Homo sapiens: one gene and its partners. The protein of the gene in region 1 interacts with the protein of each later gene in a pairwise test. Each region holds a gene or a part of one and is shown on either strand. Other genes may lie near its edges.

What was found.
Region 2: the proteins of APIP (region 1) and CFAP206 interact in binary tests that used the Homo sapiens proteins (3 or more experiments, as listed by UniProt).
Region 3: the proteins of APIP (region 1) and SKP1 interact in binary tests that used the Homo sapiens proteins (3 or more experiments, as listed by UniProt).

What each region holds. Positions count from the first base shown.
Region 1 is NC_000011.10:34,885,308-34,888,964, reverse strand, and holds part of APIP (methylthioribulose-1-phosphate dehydratase), read left to right. Parts: intron 1-95; coding exon 96-213; intron 214-536; coding exon 537-672; intron 673-3,657. UniProt on the Homo sapiens protein: Catalyzes the dehydration of methylthioribulose-1-phosphate (MTRu-1-P) into 2,3-diketo-5-methylthiopentyl-1-phosphate (DK-MTP-1-P).
Region 2 is NC_000006.12:87,414,361-87,418,017, reverse strand, and holds part of CFAP206 (cilia- and flagella-associated protein 206), read right to left. Parts: intron 2,333-3,657; coding exon 2,144-2,332; intron 1,350-2,143; coding exon 1,191-1,349; intron 1-1,190. UniProt on the Homo sapiens protein: Essential for sperm motility and is involved in the regulation of the beating frequency of motile cilia on the epithelial cells of the respiratory tract. Required for the establishment of radial spokes in sperm flagella.
Region 3 is NC_000005.10:134,159,856-134,163,512, forward strand, and holds part of SKP1 (S-phase kinase-associated protein 1), read right to left. Parts: intron 1,276-3,657; coding exon 1,132-1,275; intron 1-1,131. UniProt on the Homo sapiens protein: Essential component of the SCF (SKP1-CUL1-F-box protein) ubiquitin ligase complex, which mediates the ubiquitination of proteins involved in cell cycle progression, signal transduction and transcription.

The DNA of each region.
Region 1 (3,657 bases):
CTTGTATTCTTATGTATATGTACACAAGAAAAGGAACATTTCTAATTGATATTTTACAAGCCTTCTTTTTTTCTTTTTTTCCCCTCTATAAATAGCCTGAAGACATGTTTGTTTGTGATATAAATGAAAAGGACATAAGTGGACCTTCGCCATCGAAGAAGCTAAAAAAAAGCCAGTGTACTCCTCTTTTCATGAATGCTTACACAATGAGAGGTATGCAGAAAATATATTCAACATAAAGAATATTTGCAGAGTAGGCTCCTCTAAATAATGGTAATTATTATTTCAGTTAACATTTCTTGGATACCCACCATGTGCAAGAACTTGAAGTGCATGAACTTACTCAGTTCTCACATCAACCTATGAGGAAGGTCCATTATTCCACTTACCCTCCTGCCTACTACCAACTTATTCCATGCCAGGAAAAATAAGCCCATAACCATATGTAAATATAAGTATAACTATATGGACTTTTTTTCTTTAAAAGCTATAATTCAGTCTTCATTGAGCATGCGGCTTTCTTCTTCCTCCTTCAGGAGCAGGTGCAGTGATTCATACCCACTCTAAAGCTGCTGTGATGGCCACACTTCTCTTTCCAGGACGGGAGTTTAAAATTACACATCAAGAGATGATAAAAGGAATAAAGAAATGTACTTCCGGAGGGTATTATAGGTATTTTTTTTTCCTTTTTCTTAAATAATTTGAAAAGAATTCTTCCTTCTCTTTGATAAATAGAATACTGATCATTTTATGCATATAATGAGATGTCGTGGGATCTGTGTTAAATAATACTCCATTTAATATTACACTTCTAGACCTATTCTCATGACACGAATGGGATGTCTTCCCTCCTCTCCCGCCCCTACCCCAGCCATGGTAAATTATTAGTAATATGAATAATGAAATGTTTGTTTAAACTGAAAAAAATCTTGACTGAGATCTCTATCATGATGGAAAGATTATGTTCCTGTATTGAGGCAGCCAAAGATATCTTCAACTTCACTTTGTCTTCAGAAATTTGACCAGTGACTACAGTTTATACTTCATGGTGATTTAATTTAGTATTTCTGGAATATTTTCATATTTATGTAAGTTTTTTTAATAAAGTAGATCTCTATATTTTTAGAATTTTTCAGTGTTTAAGGTGAAATGGATAGTAAGTATAGATTACCATTCTAGATCAGTTTAAATAAATTCATCAGTCCACAAAAGTGTAGTAATTCTTCATAATTCTAGAATATAACGGCAGGAAGAAACATGTTCTCAGTGTTCAGGGACAAGCTAAGCATTTCATTTGAGTTTATTAGCATTCTCATTCCTGAACCTTCACTCTTAATTTCCTAAAGGGCTTGATTCTACCTTGCCTTGTTTAGAGGAAAACGGTGCCAGTTTTACTAAAGTGTTATTACCACAATATCATATTCTTACTGCATGTAATGGAATGTGCATGTTTAAACTAGTGCACTGAGAAATTGATTTGATTTCAGTTAATATTTATTGTGTGCTTAAAGCATTCCTCAGGACTGTGAAACACCTGTTTACAAAAGTTAAATATTTAAATTAAGAGAAGTGTACATACTGAGGAAAGTAGAGCCCCAGATTGCCTCTTCCATATCTGGGGCTGAAGGAGAGGCCTTATGGGTACTATCAGTTTCATATGAATGTTATTGTTTTGGTGAGGAAATAAAAATAGGTCAGAAGAATCAGTTTTTCTGAAAAGAGTTTGGAAAAAGTAAGGTAGAGGAACAGGGCATAAGAGAGAGTCTTTGCAATTTTGTGGAGAGGCCAAGCATGGTGGCCCTTTGCAATTCTGTTGGAGTCTAGCTGGGAAATGAGTAATAGAGTCATTAACACAGCTCAGGAGGCAGTGTTATTTTATCTGAATTTGAAGAGAATCCTGAGTCTAATCAAAAGAAAGGCAATGAAAGCTGGATGAGGTAAGAAAGGATGGAGTTTAAAATTCTCTACTGTATTTTTTTAAGTTTATCTTTTATATAAAGAACAGCTTTAAAATACAGTCACTTGTCACTGTGGATGGGGATATGTTCTGCGAAATGTGTCACTAGGTGATTTCATCATTGTGTGAACAGCAGAGTGCATACACAAACCTAAATGGTATAGCCTACTGCACACCCAGGGTATATGGTATAGCCTAATGCTCCTAGGCTACAAGCCTGCATAGCAGGTTACTGTACAAAGTACTGTAGGCAATTGCAACACAATGGTAGGTATTTGTGTATCTAAACATAGAAAAGGTTTGGTAAAAAAAAAATATGATGTAAAAGGTAAAAAGTGGCACACCTGTCTAAGGCCCTGACCATGAACGGAGCTTGCAGAACTGGAAGTTGTTCTGGGTGAATAAGTGAGTGAGTGGTGAGTAAATGTGAAGGCCTAGGACATTACACTACTATAGACTTTATAAGCATTGTATGTTTAGGCTACACGAAATTTATTGAAAACATTTCTTAATAATAACCTCAGCTTACTGTAACTTTTTTAGTTTATCAAGCTTTTACTTTTTTTTTTTAACTTTTGGACTCTTGTAATAGTACCTTAAAACACACATTGTACAGCTATACAAAAATATTTTCTTTATATCTTTATTCTATAAGCTTTTTTCTATTTTAATTTTTTTTAACTTTTTAAATTTTTTTTGTTAAAATCTGAGACACAAACACATATATTAGCCTAGGAGTACACAGGGTCAGGGTCATCAATATCACTGCCTTCCACCTCCACACCTTGTCTCAGTGGAAGGTCTTCAGGGGCAAGTAACATGCATGGAGCTGTCATCTCCTGTGATAACTAACAGTGCCTTCTTCCGGAATACCTCCTGAAGGACCTGCCCGAGGCTGCTTTACAGTTAACTTTTTAAAAACCATATAAGTAGAAGGAGTACACCCTAAAATAGTGTTTTAAAATTATAGAGTAATAAATACATAAACTACTAACATAGTCATTATCATCACGTATTACATACTGTAATAATTGTATGTGCTGTACTTTTATACAGCTAGCAGCACAGTAGGTTTGTTTACACCAGCATCACCACAGACATTTGCATAATATGTTGTGCTGTGACCCTATGACAGCTATGCGGTCATTAGGCGATAGGAGTTGTTGAGAGCCAAAAAGGCCAAAGGGATCGTGATCAACTCAGCATTCCACTGGAGGCTATATGATCAAACAGCAAACTGTTTATCATGAATGCAGGATGTGAGCAAACTCACACTGCGCCTGCCACCAAAAGGTTTGCTGAGGGACATCACTCCCTGGCACCGGGCTCCTTGAAGTTATCCATTGAGAAATCTAGAGCCTATTGTTCAAAGGATGCAGTCTTGCAAGCCTGCTGTGAACCAAAGTGGCCGACTGACAATTGCCCGACAATTGCCCCCCATTTCTCGTTATCTCTTTTACCAATAAATACGGAGGGCTGTGTACAGCTCGGGGCCCTTGTCCACTAGAGGCAAGGTGCCCCCGACCTCTTCTTCCAAACGTACTCTCTTGTTTTTATCTTTTATTCCCACGTTCGCCCCCTTTGTTCAGTCCACCAGGTCTGTGCAGGTATAATGGAGTTTTTCAGCTCCATTATAATCTTATAGGACCACCATCATATCTGTGGTCTGACATTGATGTATATGTATATACCTATATATG
Region 2 (3,657 bases), on another chromosome or scaffold:
ACCTGTAATCCTAGCACTTTGGGAGGCCGAGGCGGGCGGATCACGAGGTCAAGAGATTGAGACCATCCTGGCCAACATGGTGAAACCCCGTCTCTACTAAAAACACAAAAATTAGCTGAGCGTGGTGGCGCATGCCTGTAATCCCAGCACAGGAGAATCACTTGAACCCGGGAGGCGGAGGTTGCAGTAAGCCGAGATCGCGCCACTGCACTCCAATCTGGGCGACAAGAACGAAACTCCATCTCAAAAAAAAAAAAAAAAAGAATCTAAAACAAGTTCAAACAAAAGATATTAACAGAATGATAACCCAGTTACAGTAGGTCAGCTTTTGCCACTAAATATAGAAGAGTTCAGAGAATAGGCAGAGTTTGGTATTATGTGTTGTTAACCATGTGCTTCCAGAAAAGCCACTGACCCTTCCTTTTGTATATCTTCTTTTCTAGTTATTAAAAAAAAAAAAAAAAGGAACGTTTGTTAAGAAACTCATCTGGATGGTGAAAAATGACAGAATAGTCTAGCAAGGGAGGGTCATTTATGAAAATGGAAATTTGACTTTTTAGAACAGTTTTTAAAATAGAAAAAATTACCCTTTTATACTAGATTAGTGATTTGGTGAAAGACACTAACACCTTATCAGTGGGCCTACAGGAGTACCAAATTTCATAAGGAAGTTACTTCTACTGGTAGGTACTTCATTAAATATTTCATAAGTACTTTCAAACTTATAAAGAATGCATTAAGTATATAACCACAAAGTAAATGCCCCCGAATTTAGAGATTTGAAATATCTCCTCGTGGATCTTTTCATTCCATTAACTGCACCAGGAACTGTTTTCAGGAAGATTTTTATTTTTTAAATAACTAAATTGTACTCCCTTTTGGTTACGGACTTGCAGTAATGAACACAAAGCCCTGCTGAACTGGGAGGTTAGCTTTGAGCAGGACCCTTCATTGCTTTCACTGATTCACTTTCTCCTACTAGCTTCATGGTACATAAAATGTAAAGTCTTGCCCCAGCAAAAGTAAAAATCACTACACATTATAAACAGTAGTTATTCTTAAGGAAACAGTAAAAAATGCAAATCTTAAATTTAAGAATGCCAGTGGTGTGTTGTTTATTATTTTCCTCACTGTGCAAGTTAAATTTTAAACATACATAACCTTTAGAATTAATCTAATGATATACCTACAATCATCAATGCCTTCTCCTCCTTTTCCACAGTCTCTGTTAAATAAACGAATTCCAGTAACAATCATGGTGAGTTCTTTCAGCTGGCGTTCTTTGTCCTTCTTAGAAAGAGTTAGAAATGTCCCAAGCTCTGCCTGAGGAAAAACACTCTGTAGAGCAGCTAAAATAAACCAGAAAAAAAAAAAAGGAAAACAAAATGATAGAATAAAGATATCAGACGTTAAATAACGTTTTTCTTTAGCAGCAAGTTAAGGGTCTGAGTTACTTATATGATTCTTTAAATTACTGATACCTGATTATAGGATACATAATAAAACTTATCACGCATCAAAGCTGGATTACTGAGAGTTATGCCATTGCCTCATGTCCATTTTTAATAATTAAGCATCCAGCAGTAACTTTTTGGCAATGGGCATGAAAACAAGCTTTCTAATTAGGGATCTGAGCCAAAAAATGGATGCTTTAAAATAATTATGGAAGAAAGCCATAGGAGAGCTAGACATTTTTCCTATTCCTCATTTTAAAGGATGAAAGAGGGCAAAGACTTCCTAAGGATAAAATGGTGCCCCATTCCATCACCCATTTTAAATGACAGACTCAATTTCTTTCATCAATATGAAATATCCGTTTTCAGCTTTTCCATTTACTCAATCAGCCTGGTACCCTCAATCCTACTATCAATGTTTCTCTAATGGGGTGTAATAGGTGCCTAGATATGTACAGCTCTAGGAAAATTAGCAATATTTCACTTTCTAGAGGTGCTACTTGAGTTTTAGAATGGATACACAGTGTAAAAGGAGACTGGGTACATTTTAACTCATTTGTGCTGATTTTTTTTTTTTTTTCAGATAAAAAGGGAACTTCAATCTTTAACACTTCTAATTTAACATGTTTTATAAAATACAATGACCATATATTTTCACTTATGAAATGGAAATTGGTTATACTTTTTACCTGTTACCTCTCTGACAGTCTTGATGTCTGTAGGGGATCCAAGGCCAGAGCGGAGTAACACATAGCTGATAATCTTCCGGTAGAGGCTTTCCAATTCTTCTTTAGCACATGCTCTGTTATCTGTAATTTCTCGGGTAACAGAGCCTAATCTAGACTCTAGGACCCGGTGATGTTCTTCGAGAAATTCCACTAAAATTGCCAAATAACAATGTTCTATATATTTAATTTTTAGAATTCTTCTTACGTAAGAACTAGAGAAAAACTGGATTGGATATGGCAATTCTACTTCAGGAAAACAAGTAATTTCTTAAGCTGTAATAATGAAATAAAAAACAGTGGCCAGCATGTAGCCTCAAGACAAAAATCCAGGAGGGAAGATTTATTACAGTGACTTAAATGGAATACTTTGTCAAAACACCTAAGACTTTAAACAGCCAAACTAAACAGGAGATATCAGAAAAGGCTAAAACCTCCCAATTAAGCAGAAAATAAAGAAGACCATTTCTACAAAATATATATTATATATTTTAATTTTAATACTATATGAAAAAATAAATATATACATATTATATATTTATGCTATATGTAAGCACATGTAGTATACTATACATAAGCATATATAGTAGCAGAAATATATATGTAGTATATATGTTCCTTTCGGTTACGTGTATTTTTATTTCAGTTCTAGATAAATTTCCTCTGAAAAGCATTATTGATAATACGATGTTGCATCGAGAACTGTATCCCTCCTCATTCCTCCTGTGATATGCTGAGGGACAGGCTTCACTTTGGCAGGACACTATGTTCCCTGAGTTGTTGCAAGTACAATTCTGCAATGACTCTATAAGACAACCCATATTACTATTACAAGGTCAATAATTAACATATCCACCACGCACAGTTTATACCTATACCCTTGCCACAAAACCAACTGAGAACTTTTTGCAAATTAAAAATATGTTTAAATAACAAATTTAAAAATCTATAGGTTAAATTTTATCAATTATATGACTATTTCTTGCTTTAAAATTTCACTATTAAGCAAAAACGCAAGATATATACTTTTACATAGGTAGCATAACTGAAACTAACAAAGAGAAACATCACCAAATTGTTAATAATGATTGTACTATACAGTAGAGGTAGAGGTAGTCCATAGAGAAATAGACTTGTTTTATATAGCAGGTGCAGAGGCAGTCCATAGAGAATTACATTTTCCTTTTTCTTTTGTTTCCAACTTGTCTTTGATGTATGCATTAAATTATTTACATAATGAGCCAGGCATGGTGGCTCACACTGATAATCCCAGCACTTTGGGAGTCTAAGGCGTAGACAGATCGCTTGAGGCCTGGATTTCGACACCAGCCTGGGCAACATGGTGAAATCCCGTCTCTACTAAGAATACAAAAATTAGCTGGGCATGGTGGCACACACCTATAGTCCCAGCTACTCGGGTGGCTGAGGTGGGAGAATTGCTTCAACATGGGAGTCAGAGGTTGCAGTGATCTGTGGAT
Region 3 (3,657 bases), on another chromosome or scaffold:
TATTTTTAGTAGAGATGGGGTTTCATCATGCTGGCCAGGCTGGTCTTGAACTCCTAGCCTCAAGTGATCCACCCGCCTCACCCTCCCAAAGTGTTGGGATCACAGGCGTGAGCCACCGCACCCAGCTGAGACTTGTTTTATGGCCCAGAACATGGTCTATTTGGTAATATACACTTGAAAAGAATATGTATTCTGCTATCATTACATATAATGTTTTAGGCCAGGCGCGGTGGCTCACACCTGTAATCCCAACACTTTGGGAGGCCTAGGTAGGTGGATCACCTGAGGTCAGGAGTTCAAGACCATCCTGGCCAACATGGTGAAACCCCATCTCTACTAAAAATACAAAAACTTAGCTGAGCATGGTGGCTCATGCCTGTAATCTCAGCTACTCAGGAGGCTGAGGCAGGAGAATTGCTTGAACCTGGGAGGTGGAGGTTGCAGTGAGCCAAAATCATGCCACTGCACCACAGCCTGTGTGACAAGAGTGAAACTCTGTCTCAAAAATATATATATATATAATATTTTATAAATATCCATTAAGACAATTTGGTCAATAGTGTTATATCAAGTTATCCTGATTTCTGTCTAGTTATATTAATTGAGAGAGGTGCTGAAATCTCTATGATTGTCACTTTGTGGACTTCTTTGAGTTCTATTGGGTTTTGTTTCACTTCTTGGAAGTTCTGCTTCTAGCCAGATAAAAATTTATAATTGTTATGTCTTTTTAAAAAACTGATCCCCTTATCAGTATGAAATAATCCTCTTTAACCCTGGTAATATTCTTTGCCTCCAAACCTATTTTAATATAGTCACTCCAGCTTTCTTTTGATTCGTGTTAGTGTACCGTATCTTCTTCCATTCTTTAAACCTAGTTCTGTCTATATATTTAAAGCGGGTTTCTTACAGACAGCACAGCTAAGCTTGCTTTTCTGATCTGGTAATTTCTGCCTTTTAACTGTGTTTAGACCATTTACATTTAGTGTGTTACTGATATGTGGATTTAAATATGGCGTTACATTTGAATTTAGAGAGTATTAAAATTCAGTGTCAATGAAGTTAGCAAATTTAAATCTATAAGAAGTGTTTAAAGGCTCTAGAGTAGAGCTATCTTACACATTAAAAACTTACCAGAATGAGTTCAAAAAGTGTTCCTTGGTCAACTTTCAGGAATTCTTGGTCCCAAACAGGGATATCATCTGTTCGCTTTTCTTTGTTCTCATCATCTTCAGGAGGAGGAGGGTCATCCTTGTGGTGGGTGCACCACTGAATGACCTACAACAACAAAAGTTCATTCCTCTGTGGCACTTTGTCACAAGGTACTCATTCCACTGCTGGGACAACTTATCCCTATATTGGAATAATAACTAGCTAGAGGTTGACTTGAGCCATTAACAGCCAAGCTTGAAAAACAAAAATGAAGCTTGAAGAATCATTATAACCCTAGAAGGGAGAAGATCTTATTAGATAAAAGCAAGCCATGCAGACAGAGTACTGTACTTGACTACATTAAAAAGCTTCTATGCAAAAAGAAAAGTTAGGACAATGACTGGAAGATACCTGCAATATGTACAACAATGATTAGCTGAGAGAATATAAAATCTTTCAAAAATCATTAAAGAGAAATGGGTTAATATGTACAGCCAATAAATGAAATCTGAATAGCCAAACATAAGGAACGCTCAACTTTACTAGAAGCAAAACTAACACTACAGATACTTCTCTAGATTGAAAAAAAATCAAGAAACTGATACTAATTGTTGGGCAATAGTGGAAAGGAAACACAAACTCTTCTAGAGAGTATAAATTGGTATAACCCCTTTGAAAGCTAATCCAGCACTCCTCAGAAAAGCTGAATATGTACATATATTGTAACCAGCAAATTCCAAATACCCTAGACACATGTGTGAGACTATTTGGTGTAGGAACAAAGCAGGAAAAGCCCCAAAATTTCCTTAATAGGAGAATAATTACTCCATAAAGTTTCAGGAAGCTGATTACTTAGACTATACATACCAGCATAAAGACCAAAATCAATACTGAAAGTGTTTTCAGTTGTAGAATCTAGGCAGTGGCTACATGGTTGTCTACTGTGTAATTCTTTCCATTTTTCTGTATGGCTAAAACTTTTTCATAGCAAAATGTTGGAGGAGTAAACAATGCTGAGAGAAAATGGCAGAGCCAAGAAACATTGCCAGGATCCAAAAAAAAAAAAAGAAAGAACAATTTCAATAAGGAAAAGCCAAGCAAAGGGTTGTTTGTTTGTTTTTGAGACAAGATCTCACTGTGTCACCCAGGCTGGAATGCAGTGCCGCGATCATGGCTCACTCGACCTCCTGTGCTTAAGCGATCCTCCCACCTCAGCCTCCCAAGTAGCTGCAACTACAGGTGCATGCCACCACACCTGGCTCATTTTTGTATTTTGTTTTTGTAGAGATAAGGTTTCATCATGTTGCAAACTCCTGAACTCAAGCAATTCACCCACCTTGCCCTCCCAAAGTGTTGGGATTACAGCTATGAGCCACTGTGCCTGGCCAGCGAAAGGTTTTTGTTTTCGTTTTAATTTTGAGACTGAGTTTCACTCTTGTTGCCCAGGCTGGAGTGCAATGGCGCTATCTTGGCTCACTGCAACCTCCACCTCCTGGGTTCAAGCGATTCTCCTGCCTCAGCCTCCTGAGTAGCTGGGATTATAGGTGCCTGCCACAACACCCAGCTAATTTTTTTTTATTTTTAGTTGGCCAGGCTGGTCTCGAACTCCTGACCTCAGATGATCCACCCCCCTTGGCTTCCCAAAGTGCTGGGATTACAGGCGTGAGCCACTGCACCCAGCTAAGGGTTTTTAATGAAATAAATAATAGCTTTTTAGGAAGTATTCCAACTATATAAGAAAATTTAAAAACGTCAATATTTGCTTATCCAGGCATTTTTTAAACTCTAAACCTGGGCACAGTGGTTCATACTTGTAATCTCAGCACTTTGGGAGGCTGAGGCAGGACTGCTTAAGGCCGGAAGTTCAAGAATAGCCTGGGCAATATAGAGACACCCCGTCTCTACAAAAAATGATGATAATAATAATAGGCTGGGCACTGTGGCTCACACCTGTAATCCTAGCACTTTGGGAGGCCAAGGTGGGTGACTTACTTGAGCCCAGAAGTTTGAGACCAGCCTGGGTAACATGGTGAAACCCTGTCTCTATGAAAAATACAAAAATGAGATGGGACTGGTGGTGCACACCTATGGTCCCAGCTACTCAGAAGGCTGAGGCAAGAGAATCACTTGAGCCCAGGAGGCTGAGGCTGTAGTGAGCCATGATCGTGCCACTGCACTCCAGCCTGAGCAAGAGAGTGCGATTCTGTCAAAAAAAAAAAAAAAAAATCACTATCACTACTAACAAAAAATAAAAATTTAAAAATAAAAAACTCTTAAAAGGATATATAAAGAAACTAATGCCTAGGTTCACAACGGGTGGTGCCAGTAAAAAAGAAAAACAAAAAAATGCCACATTACTTTGTGGGGGGAGCAGTTTCCAATCAGATAAGAGACAGGGAAAGGAGATTTTATTGTACTTCCATAGTTTTGGCATCATGTAATTATTCTTCAAAATATGATATATATTCAATACAAACAGGCTTAAAAAAAAAAAAAACTTCTCGGCTG